Linked DNA regions of Homo sapiens. The protein of the gene in region 3 interacts with the protein of the main gene of each other region in a pairwise test. Each region holds a gene or a part of one and is shown on either strand. Other genes may lie near its edges. The genes, in order: ZNF251, TLK2 and FEZ2.

What was found.
Region 1: the proteins of FEZ2 (region 3) and ZNF251 interact in a two-hybrid assay, tested with the Homo sapiens proteins (one study listed by BioGRID).
Region 2: the proteins of FEZ2 (region 3) and TLK2 interact in a two-hybrid assay, tested with the Homo sapiens proteins (one study listed by BioGRID).

What each region holds. Positions count from the first base shown.
Region 1 is NC_000008.11:144,751,820-144,760,093, reverse strand, and holds the start of ZNF251 (zinc finger protein 251), read left to right. Parts: upstream 1-4,562; 5' UTR 4,563-4,689; intron 4,690-4,717; exon of another isoform or gene 4,718-5,290; 5' UTR 5,291-5,365; coding exon 5,366-5,398; intron 5,399-5,772; coding exon 5,773-5,902; intron 5,903-6,297; coding exon 6,298-6,411; intron 6,412-7,965; coding exon of another isoform or gene 7,966-8,084; exon of another isoform or gene 8,085-8,183; intron 8,184-8,274. UniProt on the Homo sapiens protein: May be involved in transcriptional regulation.
Region 2 is NC_000017.11:62,593,473-62,601,444, forward strand, and holds part of TLK2 (serine/threonine-protein kinase tousled-like 2), read left to right. Parts: intron 1-3,112; coding exon 3,113-3,202; intron 3,203-7,178; coding exon 7,179-7,348; intron 7,349-7,972. UniProt on the Homo sapiens protein: Serine/threonine-protein kinase involved in the process of chromatin assembly and probably also DNA replication, transcription, repair, and chromosome segregation. Phosphorylates the chromatin assembly factors ASF1A and ASF1B.
Region 3 is NC_000002.12:36,552,647-36,560,618, forward strand, and holds part of FEZ2 (fasciculation and elongation protein zeta-2), read right to left. Parts: intron 5,868-7,972; coding exon 5,792-5,867; intron 3,103-5,791; coding exon 3,037-3,102; intron 534-3,036; coding exon 517-533; 3' UTR 1-516. UniProt on the Homo sapiens protein: Involved in axonal outgrowth and fasciculation.

The DNA.
Region 1 (8,274 bases), on a different chromosome or scaffold from region 3:
ATATTGCTCAAACACACATGCTCTACAATTTGTGCAGTTAATGCAATTATTACAGGGTCCTGAGGCGACATACATCTTCCTCAGCTGACAGGATTAAGAGATTAAAGTAAAGACAGGCATAGGAAATCGCAAGGGTACTGATTGGGGAAGTGATAAGTGTCCATGAAATGTTTACAATTTATGTTTAGAGATTGCAGTAAAGACAGGCATAAGAAATTATAAAAGTATTAATTTGGGGAACTAATAAATGTCCATAAAATCTTCACAATCCACGTTCTTCTGCCATGGCTTCCGCCGGTCCCTCCGTTTGGGGTCCCTGACTTCCCGCAACAAGGTAGCTCCCGCCCCTCCAGCTTCTTTGTCCTTCCAATCTTCCTGGGATCAGACGGAATGCACTGGGGTCTGCTCTTTGCCATGGCAGAGGCCTCTACATATGACTGGGAGGGTCAGTTTCTCATGACAGTTAGCAGGCGCTTGTGGCTGCAGATGCAAAATCATGGTCCCTAATCGGCTTTATTATTATTTTATTTATTTTATTTTTAGAAATGGGTTCTCACTATGTTGGCCAGGCTGCCTGAATTCTGGTGTTTTTGTACGTGGAAACTGGTGATGCAAGTACTGAATGTACCTCAGGCAGCTGGAGGAAGATACAGACGGATTGCCATCCGTCCCCCAGGTTAAGGATTCCCAATGAAGTCACTCTCTTCCCACCACTCCTCCTGAGAGGGTACGGTGGAAGGAAGGGTCTGAATTTTCCTCCCCAGAATTTCCCAAGACACAGGTATATTTGTCATGAATGTGAGGAGTGAGAACAAGGGCCTGCCCCGGCCCCCAGTCTGATTGCCCTCTCCGGCACTGCTTGCCGTGGGTGTTAGGCCCGCTTAAATTTTTGTTGTTGTTGTTGTGGTTGTTCTTCATGGAGTCTCGCTCTGTCGCCCAGGCTGGAGTGCAATGGTATGATCTCGGCTCACTGCAACCTCCACCTCCCAGGTTCAAGCGATTCTCCTGCCTCAGCCTCCCGAGTAGCTGGGATTACAAGCGTGCACCACCACACCCGGCTAATTTTTTGTAGTTTTAGTAGAGATGGAGTTTCACCACGTTGGCCAGGCTAGTCTCAAACTCCTGACCTCAGTTGATCCGCTCACCTCGGCCTCCCAAAGTGCTGGGATTATAGGCGCGAGCCACCGTGCCCAGCCAATGGGTAAATATGCTGAGTATGTATTTCTAAAGGTTTGAACACAGAAGAAAGGTCTGAGATGGAATTTTTTTAAGTGGGGTAATTTACATGTAAGTAGCAGTTGAAGAAATGAGACAAGGTAAGCTCTCTTAGAGGAAAATGTAGAATAAAGTAAGGAGAATGCGCAGGGCAGACACTGAGTAGAGGAGAAAGTAGCAAAGGAGATTGAGAGTGGTTGGCAGAAAATGAAGGAAGGGTGGTATTATTGATGATAAGGAAATCAAGTGTTCCAAGAAGGACAGACAGTTCATGGTGTCAAATATTGCTGAGAGGTCAAGTAAAGGAAAACTAAAAAATGCCCACTGGTGGCCAGGCACTATGGCTCACACCTGTAATCCCAGCACTTTGGGAGGCCAAAGCAGGTGGATTACTTGAGGTCAGGAGTTTGAGACCAGCCTGGGCAACAGAGCAAGACCCTGTCTCTACCAAAAAAATACAAAAAATTAGCCCGATGTGGTGGCACGCATCTGTGATCCCAACTACTCATAAGGCTGAGGTGGGAGGATTGCTTGAGCCCGGGGAGGTGAAGGTTGCAGTGAGCTGAGATTGTGCTACTGCACTCCAGCCTGGGTAACAGAGAGAGACCTTGTCTCAAAGGAAAAAAAAAGCCCACTGGTTTTAGAAACAGGGAGGTCAGTGGAGTAGGGAACAGCTCTGTTCTGGGCCCTGAGGACCTTGGACATCTTCACATAGCTGTGTGGCAAGGTCCATCACCGTGTGAACTGAGTTTGGCAGAATGCTTGGAGGTTCCTCCTGAAACTAAGGGAGACAAGCAACCTTGTAAGAAACGACAGTGACAGCAGCGCCCCTGGGCCCCTGGTTGGCTGCGTCTGGGATGCTCCCTTTGCCCCTCCTTGGGGTACAGCTGCGGACACACCACTGCCTGGCTGCAGTGTGGAGCTGGCGCCTCAGCAGCACCGTGGCCACCATCTGTGCTTTCTGTCATCTGGCCCCTATGGTTTGCTGTCATCTTGTGTGTCTAGGGACACAGGCTGCTGATCATGCTGTAGCTGTTTGAGTAAGAAATAAACAATCTAGGCTGGGCACAGTGGCACACACCTGTAATCCTAGCACTTTGGGAGGCCGACGCAGGTGGATCACTTGAGGTCAGGAGTTTGCCACCAGCCTGACTAATATGGTGAAACCCCGTCTCTACGAAATACAAAAAAATTAGCTGGACATGGTCCTGCATGCCTGTAATCCGAGCTACTTGTGAAGCTGAGACAGGAGAATCACTTGTACCTGGGAGGTGGAGGTTGCAGTGAGCCAAGATCTCACCATTGCGCTCCAGCGTGGGCAACAAGAGTAAAACTCCACCTCAAAAAAAAGAAAGAAAGAAACAATCTCTATCTTTTGTGCTCATTGCTGATCAAATCCATGTAAATATGGCAAACCAGCCTAGCATCTGTGGCAGTTGACGCCGGTAACCCTGTCAGCTGCTGGATTGCTGCCTAGGGACTGCTTGGATGCTTGGCAGTTGGTAGCCCTGTAAATAGGAAATATCCATTAGGAGAGCCTGCAGCCACCAGTCACAGAGTGATTACACGCCCCCTGTAGGAGATGTGAAAAAGAAAAAGAGGAAATCAAATATTCTGCAATCTTACAACTAGTAATGATGTATTTATTTTCAGCTTTTTATATACGTTTTTCAAGCACTTCCCAAGTATTTATAGAGTACTTACTATGTTCCAGGCTGGTGGCTGAGCAGTGAACAAACCAACCTAGGTCCTTATATCTGGAAACCTTAAGTTTGTGAACTTAAACACCCATATATACAATTGAGATCATATCATAAATATAATTTTGTATTCTATTTTTCACATTCTATTTCATAAGCATTACCCTCTGCCAATACTTTTTTTTCAAATACCACACATAATGGCTGCATAATGTTCAACTGAGTGTACAGAAGACAATAGATTTATCTATTTCTGTGCTGCAAAAAGCATAATTATCTTCCATTTCCCCTTCTATGAATAACTAGCTATTTTCCAAATTCTCCCCATTATTTAAAAAAAACCACACACACAACAAACTCTGGAATGGGCACCCTTCTCTTTGTCATTTTTGTTATTTCCATAGGATAGATTCCTAGATTAATTGAAGTGTTTAAGGCTCTTTATGTACAGCTTAATTCATTTTCAACATTGTACTAAACACGCTTCCTCAAGCATAGCAGTGCGTAATTCTCCACAATCTCCCCAGCACTGATATTAATAATGTAAGGCATCTTCTTAATCATGTGTGACTTTGCATGGTGCTTTAGACTTCTAGACATTCTCCATCCTCGTTGATCGTCTCAAGTTCAGATATAAAATTTCTGCCTTGATTCTAACACAGTGTACAGGGCCTACACTATATTCTGGGTGACAAGATGGCTTGGCTTTCCTTTCCTTCTCCCCCTGCTCCTAAGCTGGTCTCCTCACCTTTATCAAGTGCTATTTTTTCAACCATGCTTTATTGTGTAGGGGCCAAAGGGAAAGTTCCTCTTTGCCCTCTGAAGGTTCACTGAAAGCCAACTCATAAAAGGCAGATTTTTGGAGAAAAGGCAAATAAATGGATTATTTATTTATTTATTATTTATTTTTGAGATGGAGTCTCGCTCTGTCACCCAGGCTGGAGTGCAGTGGCGCGATCTCGGCTCACTGCAACCTCCGCCTCCCGGGTTCAAGCGATTCTCCCGCCTCAGCCTCCGGAGTAGCTGGGACTACAGACGCCCGCCACCACGCCCGGCCTTTACCGCCAGTTTTCACACAGAAAAGCGGGGGGAACATCAGAGTCGTGTTTTTAGGTTTTGTGGCTGGCTTTGGGGGTCTGGCCTCTGGGACTCGCCTTGGGTAAAAGGGATTCACTCTGTGAGGAGCCTCGCGGGAGAAAAGAACTGAGACTGGAGGCCTGGGAAGGTCAGAGGGAAACTGCCTCCCAGGCCTTCATTTTGGGGCGTTGTGTTCTGAGCCCCGATAATTGTAACATCTTCATAAGCGACTTTCTGGTGGTTATGGTGAATCGGGACACACGATGTATGGTGACCGACGGGGGAGCCGGGAGCCCAGCGGGGTTAGGGTTCAGGTGAGGGTTTAGGGTCGGGGCGAGCGCGGCGCGGCCCGGATGCGCAGCGTCACCGCGCCAGACCCTCCGCTCAGCTGCCGTGGGCTCTCCCCCTCCCCGACCATAGACGGCGCAGGCCTCCAGTCATCCCAGAGCGGCCCCGGAAGAATCCGGGCGGAACCGCGGCTGGCTTCCGGTTCCCGGCGTTCTCGGAGGCGTACTGAGGCCCCGCAGGGGGCGGGGAAGCCTGCGTGTGCGCAGCTCGGCCCGGCCCGCCCTCTTCATCCTAGCCCGCCCCCTCCCCGGCTCTGGACCCGGTTCTGTGGGAGGGTCCGTTCCGGGCTCGGTGCGACTGCGCAGCTCCTCGGCGCTTCCTCGGTGGCTTCCCCGGGTCGAGCAAACAGGTGGGGCAGTGTCGGACCAGGAAGGAGCGCCAAGCGGGCAGGCAGGCGGGGAGGGCGCGGGGAGGGCGCGGGGAGGCGGCGGCCAGTCCAGGAGGAGCCTGTTCTGGGTGCCGCGGGAGCCACCGACGGGCTGCAGAGGCCGGGAGGAGGCGACCGCGGCGCGGCCCTAGAAGGCTGGACTGAGGACCACAGCTGGCTTCCGGCCTCTCCCCGGAGCCTGGGGCCTTCGGCAGCATCCCCGCGGCCTCCTTCTCACGTCCTCAGCCTTGGTGAGGCTGCACCCTCACGTGGCTCTTTGCCCCAGGTTGGCCAGGCAGGTAGAACGGCCCTGCACCCCATTTCCAGGGCCTTCAGCAGGTCTGGACCACGGGAACTGCCAGCTTTCACCCCTTAGCCGGGCGTCCCTGGATCCCCCCGGGCTCTGGCTCTGGCCGTTCTGGGATTTCAGGAGTCACTGAGCAGTAGGGCACGTCGGCCCGTGCTGCATAGTGACCTGCCTCCCGCGACCCAGGAGGCCACAGCAGCAATCAGCTTCTGCCTCCTGGCCATCCTTCCACACCCCTGGTTGAATGGGGCTGAGCCTGAGTTCTCCCCACTGAAGGTAAGTTCGGGGAGACTTCAGGCCAGGGCAGTCTCCTGTCTTCTCTTGGAAACCACAGCAGCCCATGCACACAGAATGGCAGCCACATTCCAGCTTCCAGGGCACCAGGTGAGTTAACCCTCCTTCCTGCCCACCTCTTCATCTTCATCCCCATCCCAGTCAGAAGCTACTCTCCTCTGGAGCCGTGAGCCCGGCAACTGGTAAGGCCAGCCAGGGGCTCATAGCAACCGTGAGGAAAGGGTTCTGAGAGGTAGACTCGCCCTCCTGCAGGGAGAGGGGCTCTGAGCTCAGCTGGGTCCCCGTGTAGCTGAAGTTGGCTGGTCCTCAGCGCTCTCAGCTGCCCCATCAGGGACCTGCTGATACACAGTTCATACTGACCACAGCAGGGCCCTGGGTAGTGGGGCCCCACCAGGTCAGGGCCCTTTTAGTGCAGGCTGCTGCCCCGTGGGCATGGCCTGGGCAGCGGCGATGTTTTGTTGCAGGAGATGCCGCTGACCTTCCAGGATGTGGCCGTGTACTTCTCTCAGGCGGAGGGGCGGCAGCTGGGCCCCCAGCAGCGGGCGCTCTACCGGGATGTGATGCTGGAGAACTATGGGAACGTGGCCTCTCTGGGTGAGGCTCTCTGCACTTGGCCTGGTTCGCAGTGGGGGCCTCTGAGGAGCTTGGGAGGCTGCTTTGGCTCTTTGGATCCCAAAGAAGAGGGTCCTGCCCCTTGTCCCCGGGTATCAGTCTGATCTCTACAGAAGGAACATTTCCCATGGGAAAAGCCTGCCTTGCTCCCCAGTTCTAGGGACTTCACTCCCTGTTGCCAGTGGCCCCACTGGTGTCCCTCCAGTGGCAGGAGAGCTGATGAGTGGATTCTCCTTCAGTACTTAGTCTCAGCCCACGGGCCCCCTGACCAACACACGTGCAGGCGTACACACGTGCACACAGGGCCCATCTCTCCACACCTGGCCTGGAAGGCCCAGTGGGCCATGCCAGCTCACCAGTGTCCTCATCCTCAACAGGATTCCCTGTCCCTAAGCCGGAGTTGATCTCCCAGCTGGAGCAGGGGAAGGAACTTTGGGTCCTGAATCTTCTGGGAGCTGAGGAACCAGATATCTTGAAAAGCTGCCAGAAAGGTGAGAATGGATGGGATGCTAATCCTGGGAGCAGCCTCCCAATCCTGCCTTAAGAGGCTCCAAGCGAGGGACAGCTGGGGCATGGCGTTCATATTAATGGCCTCCCCCAGGGGCAGTCTCACAGATACAGCCCCTCTACAAATGTGAGCATGTGCACATGCTTTAGAAGTTTTATCTTGCTGGTCTGTTTCTTTGCTTTAAAAATATATATATACTACTTCTGATCATATTTTTGTTTTGGTGATTTACCTTGATAACAACTTCATTCCCTTCTTTATAATACACTTATTTCCTTTTGACAATAGATATCGGTACCCTACCATGTCCTTTTTATTCTTCACTCCATTCTCTCCTTCATTTGCCAAGTTTAGTCAGTAGTAGTCTTTTTTTTTTTTTTTTTTTTTTTTTCGAGACAGAATCTCACTCTGTCACCAGGCTGGAGTGCAGTGGCACGATCTCGGCTCACTGCAACCTCCACGTACCAGGCTCAGGCAATCCTCCCACCTCAGCTTTCCAAGTAGCTAGGACTACAGGCACATGTCACCATACCTGGCTAGTTTTTTTTTTATTTTTGTTGAGACAAGGTTTCACCACGTTGCCCAAACTGGTCTTAAATTCTTGAGATCAAGTGATCCATGTCGACCTCCCAAAGTGCTGAGATTACAAGCATGAGCCACTGCACCTGACCAGTGGCTTTTTTTAATGTTTACCTTTGTTCTATTGAATATACATCTACTACTTGATATGTCAGCTGTAAGTATTATCTTTGACTGCCAGCTACTGAGACAGTCAACAAGCTTGTTCTACTTTTCTCCCTTTTCCTCCTCATTCCTTTCCCAGTTTTTGTTGGTTATATTGTTTCTACACTGTCAGAACATATAACACTTTACAACTCATATCCGCAGCTTTGTTACTGGCTTATATCTCCAGTTAAGTATGTTATTAATAATTGTTTATCTCTGGTCCTTTTACCAAAAATTTCCCCATCTCTTGGTTGGCTGGAGCTTGTCTTCTAGTTTATTCAGAAAGGCTCGTGAAAAATATACCCCATATTTGTGCACATTCAAAATTGGTTGAATAAAGCATTTGGTTTCTACATGTAAGAGCTAAGATTGTAAAATTATATCGTTTTCTCAAAGTGCAGCTTAAGTTGCATCTCACAAAATTTTAATATGTTGTATTTTCATTAACATTTAGTTCAAAATGTTATCTAGTTTTTCTTGTGACTTCTTCTTTGACCCAATGATTATTTGGACATGCATTAATTTCCAGATAGTTGGTGTTTTCCTAGTTATCTTATTGTTATTGTCATTTAATTCCACTGTGGTCAGAGAACATACTCTGTATTATTTCATTCCTTTCATATTTGTTGCTTCTTGTTTTATGACCCCAAATGTGGTCTCTCCCAGTACAAATACCACGTGCACTGAAAAAGAATGTGTATTCTGCCATTTGGGGGTTAGATAAATATCAGTTAAGTCAAGGTGGTTGATGGTATTGTTCAGGTCTTCTGTATCCTTGCTGATTTTTTTTTTTTTTTTTTTTTTGGTCTAGTTATTCTTTCAGTTGCTGAGAGAGGGGTGTTAAAATACAGAAGTATGATTGTGGAATTGTCTTTTCTTCACTTTAATTTTTGTAGTGTTGGCTTCATGTATCTTGAAGCTGTATTATAAGACTTACTTCACTTATGACTATCATTATGAGAGATAAGAGAATTCCTGTTTGTCTCTGGTAATACATTTTGTTTTGAAATATATTTTATCTAATATTAATGTAGCAATTCCATCCTTCTTATACTTACTGTTAGCATAGTATATCTTCTTTCATCCATTTAATTTCAACCTGTCTTTACACTTAAAGTGA
Region 2 (7,972 bases), on a different chromosome or scaffold from region 3:
TGAAAATATTTTCTTTCCTTGTATCCTTATTCTATAAGCTTTTTTCTATTACAATTTTTTTTTATTTTTAAACATTTTTTGTTAAGAACTAAGGCACACAACTCATTAGCCTAGGCTTGCACAGGGTCAGGACCATCAATATCACTTTCTTCCATCTCCATCTTGTCCCACTGGAAGCTCTTCAGGGCCAATAACATGCATGAAGCTTTCACCCCCATGATAACAATGCCTTTTCCTGGGATACCCTCCGAAGGACCCGCCTGAGGCTGTTTTGTAGTTAATTTTTTTTTTTTAATAAGTAGAAGTGGTACACTCTAAATTTTTTTTTTTTTTTTTTTGAGATGGAGTCTCACTCTGTCGCCCAGGCTGGAGTGCAGTGGTGTTATCTCAGCTTACTTCAACCTCTGCCTCCTGGGTTCAAGCGTCTCTCCTGCCCCAGCCTCCCAAATAGCTGGGATTACAGGTGCACACCACCGCTCCCTGCTGCTTTTTGTATATTTAGTAGAGACGCAGTTTCTCCATGGTGGCCAGGCTGGCCTCAAACTCCTGACCTCAAGTGATCCGCCTGCCTCAGCCTCCCAAAGTGCTGGGATTACAGCCGTTAGCCACCGCCCCTGCTCTCTAAAATTTAAATAATTAAAAAGTACAGTGCAGGCCAGGTGCCGTGGCTCATGCCTGTAATCCCAGCACTTTGGGAGGCCATGGCAGGCGGATCACTTGAAGTCAGGAGTTCAAGATCAACCTGGCCAACATGGCAAAACCCCCTCTCTACTAAAAATACAAAAATTAGCTGGGCGTGCTGGGATGTGCCTGTAATCCCAGCTAGTTGGGAGGCTGAGGCAGGAGAATCGCTTGAACCTGGAAGGCAAAGACCACAGTGAGCTGTGATCGCGCCACTGCACTCCAGCCTTGGCAACAGAGCGAGACTCCATCTCAAAAACAAAAAAAGTGCAGTACATAAGCCCTCACTTAGTAGCAGTGATAGGTTCTTGGAAACTACAACTTTAAGGGAAACAAGGTGTAACAAAACCAATTTTACCATAGGCTAATTGACATAAACAAGAGTTAAGTTCCTGTGGCATATTCCTGGTCACAAAAACATTACCCAGCTTCTAAATAAAGACTAAAACACTTCTAATACTAAACGTTGAAATGTATATGAGCTTTATATACATTTAAGAAAGTTTAATAGAAACAAGGTAACATTTACCCACTCATTCCCCACTCAGGGTTGAGGGTGGCCAGAGCCTATATCAGCAGCTCAGGGGCAAGGTGGGAGCCACCCTAGACAGGATGCCATCCCATTGCAGGGCGGGTACACACACACACACACACACACACACACACACACACACACACCCCATGTGGGTATGCCGGTGAACCCAACACATGTGCCTTTGGGATGTGGGAGGAAAGCAGAATAACCTGAGAAAACCCACACAGATAGGGGAAGAACAAACAGACTCCACATGGACAGTGGTGCCGACCAGGAATTGATTTTTTTTTTGAGACGGAGTCTAACTTTATCACCCAGGCTAGAGTGCCATGGCGCAGTCTCGCCTCACTGCAACCTCCACCTCCCAGGTTCAAGTGATTCTCCTGCTTCAGCCTCTTGAGTAGTGGGGATTACAGGTGGCCACCACCACGGCCAGCTAATTTTTGTATTTTTAGTAGAGACGGGGTTTCACCATGTTGGGTCAGGCTGGTCTCGAACTCCTGACCTCAGGTGATCCAGCGACCTCAGGTGATCCACCCGCCTTGGCCTCCCAAAGTCCTGGGATTACAGGCATGAGCTGCCGTGCCTGGCCCCCTTTTTTTTTTTTTTTTTTTTTAAATCAGCGTTATAACAAAATGATGTTATTTAAGGGCCTGCTGTATAGTAAATACATAAACCAATAATGTATTCATTTATTATCATTATCAAGTGTTATATACTGTAGATAATTGTTAGGTGCTAGACTTTAATATGGCTGGCAGCACAGTAGGTTTGTTTACACCAGCATCACCACAAGCGCGAGTAATGCATTGTGTGGTGACATCATGACTGCTGGGTTACCAGGTGATAGGAATTTTTCACCTCTGTTGTACTTTTTTTTTTTTTTTCTTCCTCAGTTCATGGGAAGCTCTGTTATACTCTTATGGGACCCCGTCATATGTGTGGCTTAGCATCATTGACCGAAGGGTTGTTCTGCAGTGGATGACTGTATCAAATTCGCCATTCTAAGAAAACTGGGGTTCCATAATTTCACATTTCATATTTTATTAGAATAAAGTAAAGCTAATAGCACTTAAATTGTTTTTGTAAGAAGGATTTAAAAACAAAAAATACAAAGTACTGCTAATTGATTTATGTAACAGATAATGCTTTAACCTAAGGGGTTTACATGCTAAAAATGACCCCTTTGATGTTACCCGAGCATATATACATTTACAGATATGATGTATCAGCTTTAGAGGAGGGGGGAAAATAACCGTCCTTGTTATTTTAAAATCTATGATACTTGAGTATACGTGGAAAAGAGGTGTGATTATCATAGAATGAACTTGAAAGGGATGAAAAGGGTTGACATCCATTCACTTAACAAATATTTGAGCACCTGTTATTTTATTTTATTTTATTTTTGGAGATAGAGTCTCGCTCTGTCACCAGGCTGGAGTGCAGTGGCGCGACCTCAGCTCACTGCATCCTCCAACTCCTGGGTTCAAGTGACTCCTACCTCAGCCTCCCGAGTAGCTGGGACCACAGGTGCGCACCACTACGCCCAGCTAAGTTTTATATTTTTAGTAGAGACGGGGTTTCACCATGTTGGCCAGGATGGTCTCCATCTCTTGACCTCGTGATCCACCTGCCTCGGCCTCCCAAAGTGCTGGGATTACAGGCGTGAGCCACTACGCCCAGCCAGAGCACCTATTATTTTCTCAATGGCTTGGTAGATTCCAGTGGAGAAAATAGGATGAGCAAAGAGAAAAGTCAGATGAGGGACCAGATGGACCTGAATGGAATTAACATGTGGAGACAATAGAGAAATGATTGAATATTTAGGAGGATCTTTGAAGAGTTCTAAAAGGCAGGCCAATATACCTTCTTGTTAATTTTCCCTTTTGTTTACAGGCATGCATGTAGGGAATACCGGATTCATAAAGAGCTGGATCATCCCAGAATAGTTAAGCTGTATGATTACTTTTCACTGGATACTGACTCGTAAGTGCTGTGCTGTTTTACCTTAACAGTTATATTATTTTCTTGCAATGCTGATTGTTCATGGAATAGAGCTGAACTCTGGGTCCAGGACATACCCTCTGAGGGAACCAAGTAATTTGTGACAAATGATCAAACATAAATTCAGATTTGGATCAGCAAGAAACCTCTAGGCCAAAGGACATGTGCACTTGTGTGCCAGTAAATGTTTAACAGCCAGCTTGGTATGAAGAGAGACAGGGCTAATTTATAGTGTTTGCCAGTTTCCGTGGTGTAGATATTCCTCCTGTGTCTAATTTTGATGTACCACCTGTTTATTTTTGTTTTTTTTTAAACATCTTAATTATAATTCACATACTGTATGATTCACACATGTAAAATATACAGTTTAGTGGTTTGTAGCATATTCATAGATACATGCAACCACCAGAGGCAATTTTAGAATTTTTTCACCATCTCAAACCCCATCATACCTTTTACTACTATTCATCTATTCCACCATTCCATCCCTCTGCCCTAGCCCTAATCTGTCTGTTTTATCTTTATAGATTTCCTATTCTGGACCCTCATATGCATGGAATCATATAGTATGTGGACTTTTATTACTGGCTTCTTTCACTTACCATGGTGTTGTCAAATTTCATCCTTGTAGCCTGTGTCAGTACTTCATTCCTTTTTATGGCAAAATAATATTCCATTGTGTGGATATACCACATTTTGCTTATAACGGTTTGATAACCAGCTCACAAAATTCTTGAAAATTTAAGTCAGCTCTTGGAAACTGGCATGAGTTGGTGCCAGCATGCCACTGACGTGCACTAGTGAGTGTAGACTGTTCAAGAGAGTTTCTGCTCACCCCAGAGACTCTTATGAACATTGACAGACCTTTTTAAAAAGTACTGGCCGTGTGATTTTATCCTAGACTGAGATAAGAAATGTGGCACTAATGAAGACAAGGCTCAGTGCTACATGTTGAAATACAGGCTCATAGGCTTATAGGATGTTAGAATAGGAAGGGATCTCAGAGTCCAGCCTTTTCATTTTATAGGTGGATTTTGAGGACCAGAGAAGTTAAATAACTTGTCTGAGATAGTTATTAATTGTGGGCATTGCTATATTTTGTTACTTGGTATAGGTAACCTCCCGTGCCTCTGGGTTTATCCAGCAGTTTAGCTGGATATATCTCAGCATTTGGAAATGTTTCTCTGTAGAAGTCTGAACTGAATCAGAATATACCCTAGGTCTAGACTTCAGGTTCCCTCAGCCTCCCAGGGTAATTCTAGGAGTTTTGGTCTGTTCTAGCCAACAGTCTCAGATATGGCTGTGCAGACAGCTGCCTTACATTTAGAAATAACCCCAAAGAGGACTATAATTCCCTTTGGAAACATGACCTGGGCCATTCTCTCAGGGATTTCTTCTCATTTGGGTAGCCCTGGCACTGAGCTTAGCCATGTGTGTTTCACGTGGAGTGGAATTTTTTTAAAAAGATCTAGTTAGAAGGCAGGATTGGGAAACAAGGGGCGGGGCATGACATTACTGTTTTGCCTTGAGCAAATTTCTTGAATACTAGGTAGACCCCCCTCTCTGAACTATTAAGTTCAAGAACTATTTCAAAGTTAAATATCAGGCTCAAATTATCTGCTGTTTTGAATTGTATACACACTTTTAACTAATGTGAGAAATTGAGTTGGTTCTATACTATTCTTGAGTTGATTACTTTGTTCTTCCTATTGTATGTATGATGAATTTTCACCAAAAATAAGTCAGACCATGATTTTTAGAACATCTTCTGAGAATTGTTTGGGTATTAAAAGTGAGGCTTTATTTTCTTTTCTTTCTTTTGTTTTGGTTGTTTTCCTTTTTTTTTTCCTGAGATGGAGTCTCACTCTGTTGCCCAGGCTGGAGTTCAGTGGTGCGATCTTGGCTCACTGCAACCTCCACCTCCCAGGTTCAAGCGATTCTCCTACCTCAGCCTCCCATGTAGCTAGGATTACAGATGCACGCCACCATGCCTGGCTAATTTTTGTATTTTTAGTAGAGACAGGGTTTCACCGTGCTGGGCAGGCTGGTCTTGAACTCTTGACCTTGTGATCCGCCCGCCTGGGCCTCCCAAAGTCCTGGGATTACAGGCTTGAGCCACCGCGCCTGGCTGAAAGTGAGGCTTTATTTTCAACTTGCATTTGGGTGAAAGAATCATTCCATTGAGCATGAGTCTATATTTCAGATTTCAGAATCTCAGATCAGAGGAATCTATAAATTTCAGACATTTCTTTTTTTAATTTTATTTTATTTGAGATGGAGTCTTGCTCTGTTGCCCAGGCAGTAGTGCAGTGGCATGATCTTGGCTCACTGCAACCTCCACCTCATGGGTTCAAGCAATTCTCCTGCCTCAGCCTCCCAAGTAGCTGGGATTACAGGCATGCGCCACCATACCTGGCCAATTTTTTGTATTTTTAGTAGAGACAGAGTTTCACTATGTTGGCCAGGCTGGTCTCAAACTCCTGGCCTCAAGTGATCCACCCATCTCTGCCTCCCAAATTGCTGGGATTACAGCAGACATTTGTTTTCAAATAGGGTGTTAGCATGCCCTGCCATGTTTCTTAAGATACATAAGATATTGTTCAGTTTGTGGTGTCCACAGGACCATGTGTGTCCATGTTCAATTGCAGTGCTTTATGAAGGCCTCAAATTGCTCAGTGGCCCATAGCGCTAGACCTGAGTCTGTTTGCTCTCAGTTCTGTTCCTCGCCCTTTCGCTGCTCTGTATCTTTGGGGGGTTAGCCCGTGTAGGCTGTGTTTATCAGGCCCATGTGTCCATTGGTGTTCTGTTGGTTTCAGCCAATGGGAAGGCAGAAATGGGAGGGGGTCTCCACCTCCTCTCCCTCCCCGCAATTCTAGTTTCCCCTGATGACCCTGGGTTCTGGTTTCACCATCTCCTCCCTTCTGGCCTGCTTGCCTGAGGGTGCTAATGGCTTCCTGCTGTAGATGATCTCTAGGGTGCCTCACTGACCAGTTTGTCTTCTCAGCTCTTCCATCATCTGTATGATCAGTTCCCTGAATTAAAGTCTCTCTGTTTTAAATGTTCAGGTGGTTTTTTTTTCCAGGCTAAACTGACTGATACACCCACATTGTCACAACTTAGAAAACTTCAAAACGTATTCATCCCTCAGGAATATTCAAACAGTTCAGGACACCTTACTTCAGAGTATAATGCCTTGGAAGATAGACACGTGACCTGTGATGCCACCAATGGCATATGGTTTTATGTATGGGTCTGTATGACATATTGACATAAGGGAAGGAAAGAGAACCCACATACTTTTGTTAGAACCATAGATACTATACTTTACAAGCTCTTTTACACCTTGTGTTTAAGAGAAATTGTAGTGCAGTATTGTGCCAAGCTGTCAGAAGACGTAGTATGCAGTCAGTTTTTGGGACGTGGGCAAACTCTAGATTCTTACTCATTGCCAGCACTCAGGGTTATATAAAATGTTTGCAGTGCGAATTGTGTACCTAGCCAAAATTGCGCCACTGCACTCCAGCCTAGGCAGCAGAGTGAGACGGAGTCTCAAAAAAAAAAAGAGAGAATTGTGTACTTGATCACATTCTGGTTGTTTAGACGTGGATGTGTGGCATGGGTGTGTAAAGGAGCCCCTTCCAAGAAGATACCTAGCTTAAATACATTATAGTTCTTATCAGTATTCTTATAGTCTAGACTCAAGAAGAGGTCTGCCATGGGTGAACTTGAGCACAACAGATTCCAACATTGAGGGTGTGGAAACTCTTCAAGAGAATAAGCAGTTTCTTACCAGAAACCCCTCAGCTAATACTGAATAAACAATTGAAGAGTATTTTAAGGAACAAAGAAGAAAGGAGTGAGAAGCTGATGACCTGAAGTTTTCACATGGGACTAATTTAGGTAGTGTTAATCTGCTTGCTCTTATTCCATGGTTAAATATTGGTTTATTTGTCTTTAGGTTTTGTACAGTATTAGAATACTGTGAGGGAAATGATCTGGACTTCTACCTGAAACAGCACAAATTAATGTCGGAGAAAGAGGCCCGGTCCATTATCATGCAGATTGTGAATGCTTTAAAGTACTTAAATGAAATAAAACCTCCCATCATACACTATGACCTCAAACCAGGTATGTCTAACTTTTAGGAGACAGTATTAGTGGGTTTTCTTTGGTCTTATAAGTGACTTTTAATTTGATAAAGTTAGAGAATTTCACAGCAGCCAAGAAAGGCTAATAACATCTGACTTTTGATTGCCTGGGTAGGTGTGGGAAAAAAGAGTCCTGGCCAAGCAGCACTGGGTTTAGGAGGGCGTGTTGGATTAAATACTCTGGAGAAACAATACCTTTATCTTTGGAGCCAGGGCAGTTCATGATGTAAGTCTCATTAAGAAAGAACTGTTGCAGCAAGTTCAGTTTTGTTTTTTTCCCATGACTCCTACTACATAACAGTCCCTCTGCTTCAGGTCTCTTTGATAAGAGCCCCCAAATTAATAACTTATTTTTACTTATATGCCTCCCATTTCAATAAATTTCAAGCAGAATTTTTCATCTTTTTGTATGGTTATTATCTAGCTTTGATGTTCATCAGCAAAGAGTACAGGGCAGCTAGAGTCCTTACCTCTATTTTTTATTGTTATCTTCAGCTGTGTTTTAGAAATCTGCATAGTTCTATAGACAACTCTAACAGCTTAGCTTGGGCATTAGGAAGATGGTCCACATTTACCTTCTGGTGTTGCAAAATTGTAAACTTTG
Region 3 (7,972 bases):
ATGCATATTCTGGTTTTGCTTCTTCAAGAACAGCCCGTTTATTCTGTTTCAATCTCTCTGAACAATACTGGTAGGTAATAGTTACACTGACAATTCTCACAAAAAAACAGTGTTGGTTCTTGCCATCACTGAATTTATAGTATAAATCTCCCAAGGCTTTAATCTAGTTCATCAGTGCAGTTTAGATAAGAAAGCCATAAAAACAAATGGGCATACTGTCAGTTAATGAGAAATACAACTGCACATGCACAATTAATATTACTCTCTCTTAATCTACTAAGAGAACAGTTTATTAGTAGATTTAACAAAAACCATCTCTAGAATTCAAAATAGTGCCCATATTTCCGTTGGTTCTATAATATAAAGAATTAGTGTAGTCAAGATCTGTTAATACTGAATCAAACCCAAGTTCAAATGTGCTGAGTTTCCAATAGCAAGAAGGGTAATGGTAGCCAGCTCTCAGAATAATGCTGTCGGAAATCTAGCTTGGAGCCCACCGCAGATAAAGTTGCTGCTCTATGTAGGACACAGAACTAGAAGAAAAAGAGAACTTTTAGCTACAAATGTATATTTTGTATACATTTACACAAAACATACATTTTACATGTACATTTAAAAACCATTAAGTAATGAGAACTAAATGTTAATGCAAAGATCTATGTAGCAATTTTTTAAAGGTTTTAAGAGGCTATACCCAACAAGGATGAGTTCTCTCAACACACATTAGAATTTCCCAGAAATGAGATACCAAAAGGCCATGTCTCTTAGGGTGCCACTTGGAGATAGAAGCCCCTAACATTCGCCCTATACCATGAGGCTTGTGACACAACAAACAGGATCCCTAGGGAAGTCAAAGAAGGGTGCAAGTTTCTGCACACATTTTTATTCCTAACTAGCAGCACGGCAGCAGCCACGCGTACATTACTTCAGAATCAGCCTTGGGTACTACTGTCAAGGCAGCAGTGGCGGCAGGCTGCAGTGGGGTCATTAGGCAGGTGCGAGAAAGAGAAGCTCAATTAGCCCATACAGTGCCCACCCTACTCCCTTTTCTCAGGCCAAATGAGACCACTTTTCTACCTTCTTTCACTTCTGACATTTGCATTAAAACTAAGTGGTGTATTTAGGCAGCCAAGCCACACTCTCATCTGTGTTAAAACAACAACAAACCACCCAAAAAAGGGGAAGGAGTATTCTCCCCTTGAGCAATATCCCCCTCCCGGGCAAAGTGTCGTATTATTGGTCCCCAAGGAAGAGGAACAGTTAACCAGCTGTGAACTTTCAGGATGGGTGGAAAAGAGCATTTTCAATGACCCGACTTCCCCACCTTCCCACACACATTTGGGTAAATACATCTCCACATTGCACTCCCGTCTTCATTTTCTCTGACTACAGTCTCCACTGTAGTCTAAATCCTTGCTGCTTTTCCACCCAGTCCTCACAATACAAAGCCAAGACAAAACCACAACACATGCACACAGACAGCTCATCAGAAGCAGGTACAGTATAGATAGAACTGGGCTTACAGACAGGAGCCAGCGGCCCGAGCATGAGGAGCAGAATTAGATGGGTGCTGCTTCCCTAAGGCATGCGGTATAGGTAGGTTCACAATTATAGTCCTAGGTTTTCAGAGTAAAGAATTAAAAATCATTTTTCCCCAGAGGACTCTGTTCTTTGGGTCATAACATCCTTCCATGCAGTTAAATGCTAAAATAGCTAGAGAATGCTTCAGAAGCTCATTCTATCTCTGGCCCTCATAGAGGCCTAGGAACCCGATATAATTAAAATTTAAGACATGTTCTTTATGTTCGTCTCATTCCTGTTTCACATCTAGAAGAACGAACCTCAGAACAATCCAGCTTTCATACCAATGCTAGCACAACACAAAAGCAAACAAAGATGTCAGGTATTAAAAAAAAAATTTTTCAGAATTTTATAGGGAGAAAAAGTCCTCCATCAGAAAAAAAGCTTATTTTTTAAAATGATGTCAACTCAGTCTGTTCTACTCCAGTGTCAACCCACTAGTGTCTAGCTCATGCTTCTTACTCTCACCGCATCAAGACTCTTACAAGTGAAATGTGTGATTCACTTTGAGCACCCTGTGTATACTACTGAGGTTCCCCTTTCATGACACTATGGTTTAAGAAAAGACCATCAGAGGTTTCTAATGTCTCAGAAATCTTCATCTTCCTTGTGCTCAGCTAACTTTAATGGAGAAGAGAGAGAACCCAGAGAAGAAGACTGTTACTAGAAGAGGATTGCTCTCAAAATTTGATCAAACACTACAAAGATGCATTTTGTGATGCTTTCAAAATCTGGTCCCTGAATACCTGCTACTTTAAAAAAATATTTCATCGTAAAGTATTAATTTTGCCTCTAATTAAGTTCTTCCGTCCCTTCTTTATCATCCAAACTTTGCTCTTTTCTCGGCAAAGCAACTCAACCTCTCACTCTTCTTTTGCCTCATCAATATTCCCACCCTGTGTGAGCCTCACCTTGCCTCTAAGATTTGTGGCTGCTTTTTCACTTTCCTGGGTTTATGCAAGTCCATTCTTTTTATTTCCCCGCTTCCCTCCCTGTGTCTTACATCAGTCCCTTTCGTATTCCCTTTGGCACTGTTCACAGATGTGACTCTTCCTTCCTTCATCCGTCCTCACTAATGATCTGTCCTCCTTTCCACTGTCCTCAAGATGACAGAGACCACCCTTCTCAAATTTCCCAGTGCCAATCTGCCAACATCTGATACCCACATGATTATGGTGCCATCTCACTAATTTTCTTCTACTACCTCTCTTGATGTTTATAGTTTAACTGTGGAGATTATTTCCAACCCAGAACCTCCAATAAAACTTAAATTATATAAAACCATGATATATAATGTTGGTAGAAGTCAGTCATGTAGCTAATCCTCACCCTGCATAATAAGATTAATGAAAGTTGTGCATTGGGAAGTTACTGTCTAATGTATTAGCAAGGCGATGTATTTACTGACTAATCCAAACCTCCCAGCCATCGCACCTATACCATTATAAAACTCACCTTTCAGAATATAATCAGTTAACAAGCTCGGAACTTTTTCACTGTCCTCCTTCATGGCACGAAGAACTGCAAAATAGAAGAGGGGAAAAAAGACAACAATTAAAAATTTAGATCAAAAATATTATTTAATTTCAATCATTGTGGCCTTAATCTTCCTTAATTATAGGATATAACTGACTCATACAAATTATAGGTGATTTTCCTGATAAGGGGATACAACAATAAAGGCCCAATAATTTATTTTAGTGGAGTAAGTCCACAAGAATTTATTTTCGGTAAGAATATCCCACTTACCTGAGAGTTGCTTCCCTGATTTAAAATTTCCAAACAGTGGAGACAAAAAAAGAGGAACTGGGTTATTTACAAGGAGCCTTCGCTCTGTAATAATACCGGAAAGTGGGTTACTATAATGTGCACCTCAATGAACTCTGTGCAGCAAGAAAACCTCAGTGCTGCAGATCAAGCAAACTAGAGAAACTCTTAAAGAAATGGACAGCTATACCCTCCAACAAGCGTATCCTGTCAGACTCCTTAGAAACTTTCAAAGAAAAGACCCAAATGAAGAACAGACTTCCATGAAGCAGCATCGGGCATCTGCCTGGCTGTTGCCTCCTCTGCACTAGGGAGAAACCTGGGAGAATTAGCCTCATTCTAATTTGACAAATTTATCTTCTAAGTAAAAACTAAAATAGAAAAAGCAGCCACCTAGTATAACGTTTTTCTTTTTTAAGCTAGACCATTCAGGTTGAGATAAACTCACAAATATTATACTTTAACAGAGATTGCCAACTCAAATTTTCTCCAAAGCATCCTGGTAAAAATATTTCACTGTTTTTCCCCACCAATACGACAAGGCAAAATAGTGTAACTGTCAAATCAGCCTTCCTGGGTTTAAACCCTGGCTCTGCCACTTCCTAATTGTGTGACGCTGAGCAAGCTACTTAACCACTTTTGCACCAAGCTCTTCATCTGTGAAATGAGAATAATAATTAGATTTAATCTCAAAGGTTTGTTATGAGGACTAAGCTACTAATTCAGATATAAAGGTCATATCATAGTGCCTGGCACATAGTACATGCTATGTATTAACTGTAACTAACACTACTCAAATTATTTAAATTTTTATTAACTATTATTATTGCACCCAAAATCCCCTAATAGCTTTTATCAGGAAGACTATATATCCATAAACACTGTGACTGTCTCCACAGGGCTCTTCTTTTGGAAAGAAAAGGAGCTTTGGACCCAAATATGTCCAGAGATTCCAAACTGTGACAACCTATAAAGACATCTCGATGCTGGAATTATGATGACTTTAGTTTGACCAATGAAGTATTTGTTCTTGATCTGAGAAGCTGAGGCCTGCCAGTAATTCCTGGCTTATGAGCAATATTTATGTTCCCTTCTTTAGAGGGCTACCATGTTCAGTATTTCTGCTTCCAATCATGTTTAAAATTTTTTCTAACTTCTAAATAAAATCACATACCAAAAACCAGCATCATTAAAAGTATAATTGCCTGGGAATTAAGAGATCCAGCTCTGTAACTAACCATCCCCCTGTGTGATCTTGGACACATATAACTTAAGTTCTTCCTGAAAATAAGAGGGCTAGCTACCCAGTTAATCTCTTGATTTTTTATTTCAGACTGGCTGGCATCACTTGATTTATCCATATTTAAATATAAAATTTTTAAAGAATTATTCACCAAAGGAAAGAATAAAAGCTCCAAGTTAGCAGGCAGGGAGCTAAGAAATAAGACACTTGCTTCTACTCTTAGGTTTTCCTTGCCCATTCCTCTTAAATTTCCAAAATAAGTATCATCATCCATACTCATCCATGTGATGCTCTTTCATTTGGTTCCCCCCTAATTAGCAAGTATCATAAATATTTACCATAACAAAGACCTAACAGATCAGCAAATTCAATCCCTCCATTTTAACGGCTAATTGATAGTAACTTAGCCAAAATCATACATATATTAATCTATTTACTGTGAGGTAAATAGAACAAATATTTTTTATCCTAGTTTTTCAATGTAAGCAAAAGAGAGTAAGTAACTTCCAAGGATATCCCTGAAAATAACAGGGATAGAACCAGAATTCAAGGCTCATTTGCGGCCATCATAAGAGATACTCAATATCATGTATATTTAAATCTAACAATTTTTTTTTTAAGGCAAGCCCCTTGAAGGTGCATTATCTTTGTCTGCTTTGTTCACTAAAGTATCCCAAGTGCCCAGATCATGGCCTGGTACAGAGTAGGCCTTCACTAAATATTTGCTGAATGAATGCATGTTCTTAAAACATCACTGTCAATTTATGTTCTACCTATAACTACTACCTCGGGTTCTACATTCATAAGAAATAAAAAGTGTTTACCGTAAATCTTTCCTATTCAGTTACTGACAATCATAGATATATAAGATCCATAAGGAATTTTATTTATGATAAATGGATATGTTCTTAAACATGTAAGAGATGATGGAGATTTAGGTTATGCTTTTTCCCAAAATTTTAGCTCATAAATATTTCACAAGGTAAGAAAAACAGAAAAAGTACAAATCAACACTAGAGTTACTGTTGTATTTAATGTCACAGCCATTTTTGGCTTCATTCTTATAAAAATAAACAATTATATGCATCATTTACATCCTAAACTGACAAAACACTAACAACAAAATCAGCCAACTAAAGTCAGGTGTTTACCAATCAGCAAAAGGAAATCAGGTAATAGTTTCATTTTGTCTTTGCTCACTTTTTGTTAATATTTGAAGATCTTCAACAGACGGTGGTCCGTTTTTTTTCTCATAAGGAATGACTGTAGTCAAATACTGCCAAGTTTAAAAAAAAAAAGTGTCACTTAAATCGGAATTACCTTATCTGCAAAAAATTTGATACTGTTACTAGAAGGTCTATCTGATAATATAAAACACAAGCTACTTTGGTAATGAAAACACAGGTATTGTATGGGAATAAAGTTATCTTACTATCTCAGATGGAGCTCATTTTTTTTTGCCCACCTCTATTTGCTTCATACAAACCTAATGTCAACAGAAACAACCACCTTTTTGCATTTCAGTTATTGAAAATTTCATAGGACTAAGTCTGAGGATGGTTTACTCAATTTGTTCATTTTTAAAGTGAAGTATTATCTCACATTCTACTTGCATATTTTTCAACACATTTTAAAAATAGCAATTTAAACTAAAAACATAGTTTTAACAGTTCTGCACAATAAAGTAATTTCCAACAGCAAAATAATTCTGTTTCAGACCATTTTTATTCTGGTTGAACAAATGGTCCACATATATAACATGACAACTTTGAAAAACACACACTAGCTTCTTTCAGAAGCTAACAAAGACACACTTAAATCGTTTTAGAAATGCGTTACTATTATTTTAAATTATTGGGTAAGTCATTGTAAACGTTTTTAGGCATTAAAGGAGAAAAGTTAAAGTAGAGAATGGCCTAAGGGGAAATGAATAATGAAAATTAATGTCTGAAATTGAGATAAACTTCCTAGTTCACTACTTGTAAAGGCTCACAAGTAACAGCGCCATGTCTTTTAACTAATCCCATGAAAGCATAATCCATAAATGATTGTCCAGATTTTCCTGTTCTTACCATCCCACCAAAAAAATAGTTCCGTGCATTTCACATATGCTCATATAGAAAGCCAGTGGTTTTTACCTGGAATCTCTTAGCTCCACCCATTATTTAACCTCGTGCCCTAAATCTCAGCTCTGTGGCTAATCCTCACTGAGTGATCTTATCCTGCCCATAACTGAAAAACAGGATAAAGAAAGCTGCTTTACAGTAACTGGATCCCTAAGTCCAGAAAAGTGGTAAAACTGCATAGTTCAATCTCTGAGACACGTTAAGTGTCCCACCGTCTTTTTGACGTAGACTTCTTGCAGGTGATGCCCAATTGTATAATCGAATGTTTCTTTGTAAAGAACAACAACAACAAAAGGCCAGAAATGATGTCCTCCTGGCTTCACTCTGCATGTGTGAGGCAACCTGGAGAGGCACCAGGCGGCTGCACCCTGGCCCGCTCTCTGGCTACCTGGCTGCATCTTCAGGCCTCCCTGCTCCACTGACAGTCTGGAAGATTCCTTGTCTTCTTTTGAGGTTGAGAGAGGTGAGAGGCAACGGAATGAAAACAAAAACTCAAACATCCCTTCATGGAGCTCATTGATGAGCTGCAAATGTCAGTGTGAGGCTTCCCTCTTTAATAGGAATGATCTCCCTTCCGGAGAAACACTTAACTACCTGCAGTAAAAACTCCAGGCATTTGATCTAGGCGTTCTTTTGCTAAACTTCCTACAAGCTACATTTTGTACACCTTCTTAATCTGCACAGAAGAGCTAACTTAAAGACTTTTCTTTTTCAAGGTGAAAATTTCATATAGTGAAAGGTAATTTTAAGCATACCCATTAATGTGAATGTTTCCCATGTTCATGATATTCCTTCAATCATTATACAAAAATGTGAATAAAAAGCAAATTGCTAGATACTTGATTATATATTCATATCTGTGTATAATTTTGTATAAATAATGTCGCATGCCTCGTTTGGCAGACAACTGAGTTGGCTGACTATGCAATACACCTTAAAAACACATGAATTTCATTTAAAGGAGGTAAGATACACTCTATACATATTTTTGACCTAGAACTCTAGTCTCAAACATACCGACATCTGGCCTTCTTCCCCCAAAAATGACATCTTGCGACTTAGACTTTTAGAATTAGAGTCACATATTTTAGTTTAGTTATTTTCACAAGCAGATTTTCTACACATGCAATACATTATGTTAAAATGTTAATATTTGTTTAAAACTAAGAGTGAAAAATGGAGCTATAAAACACGTCTTAAGAATGCATTTAATCTATTGTCGAATTTGAAAAATGCTTTTTCCTCAAAGGGAAAT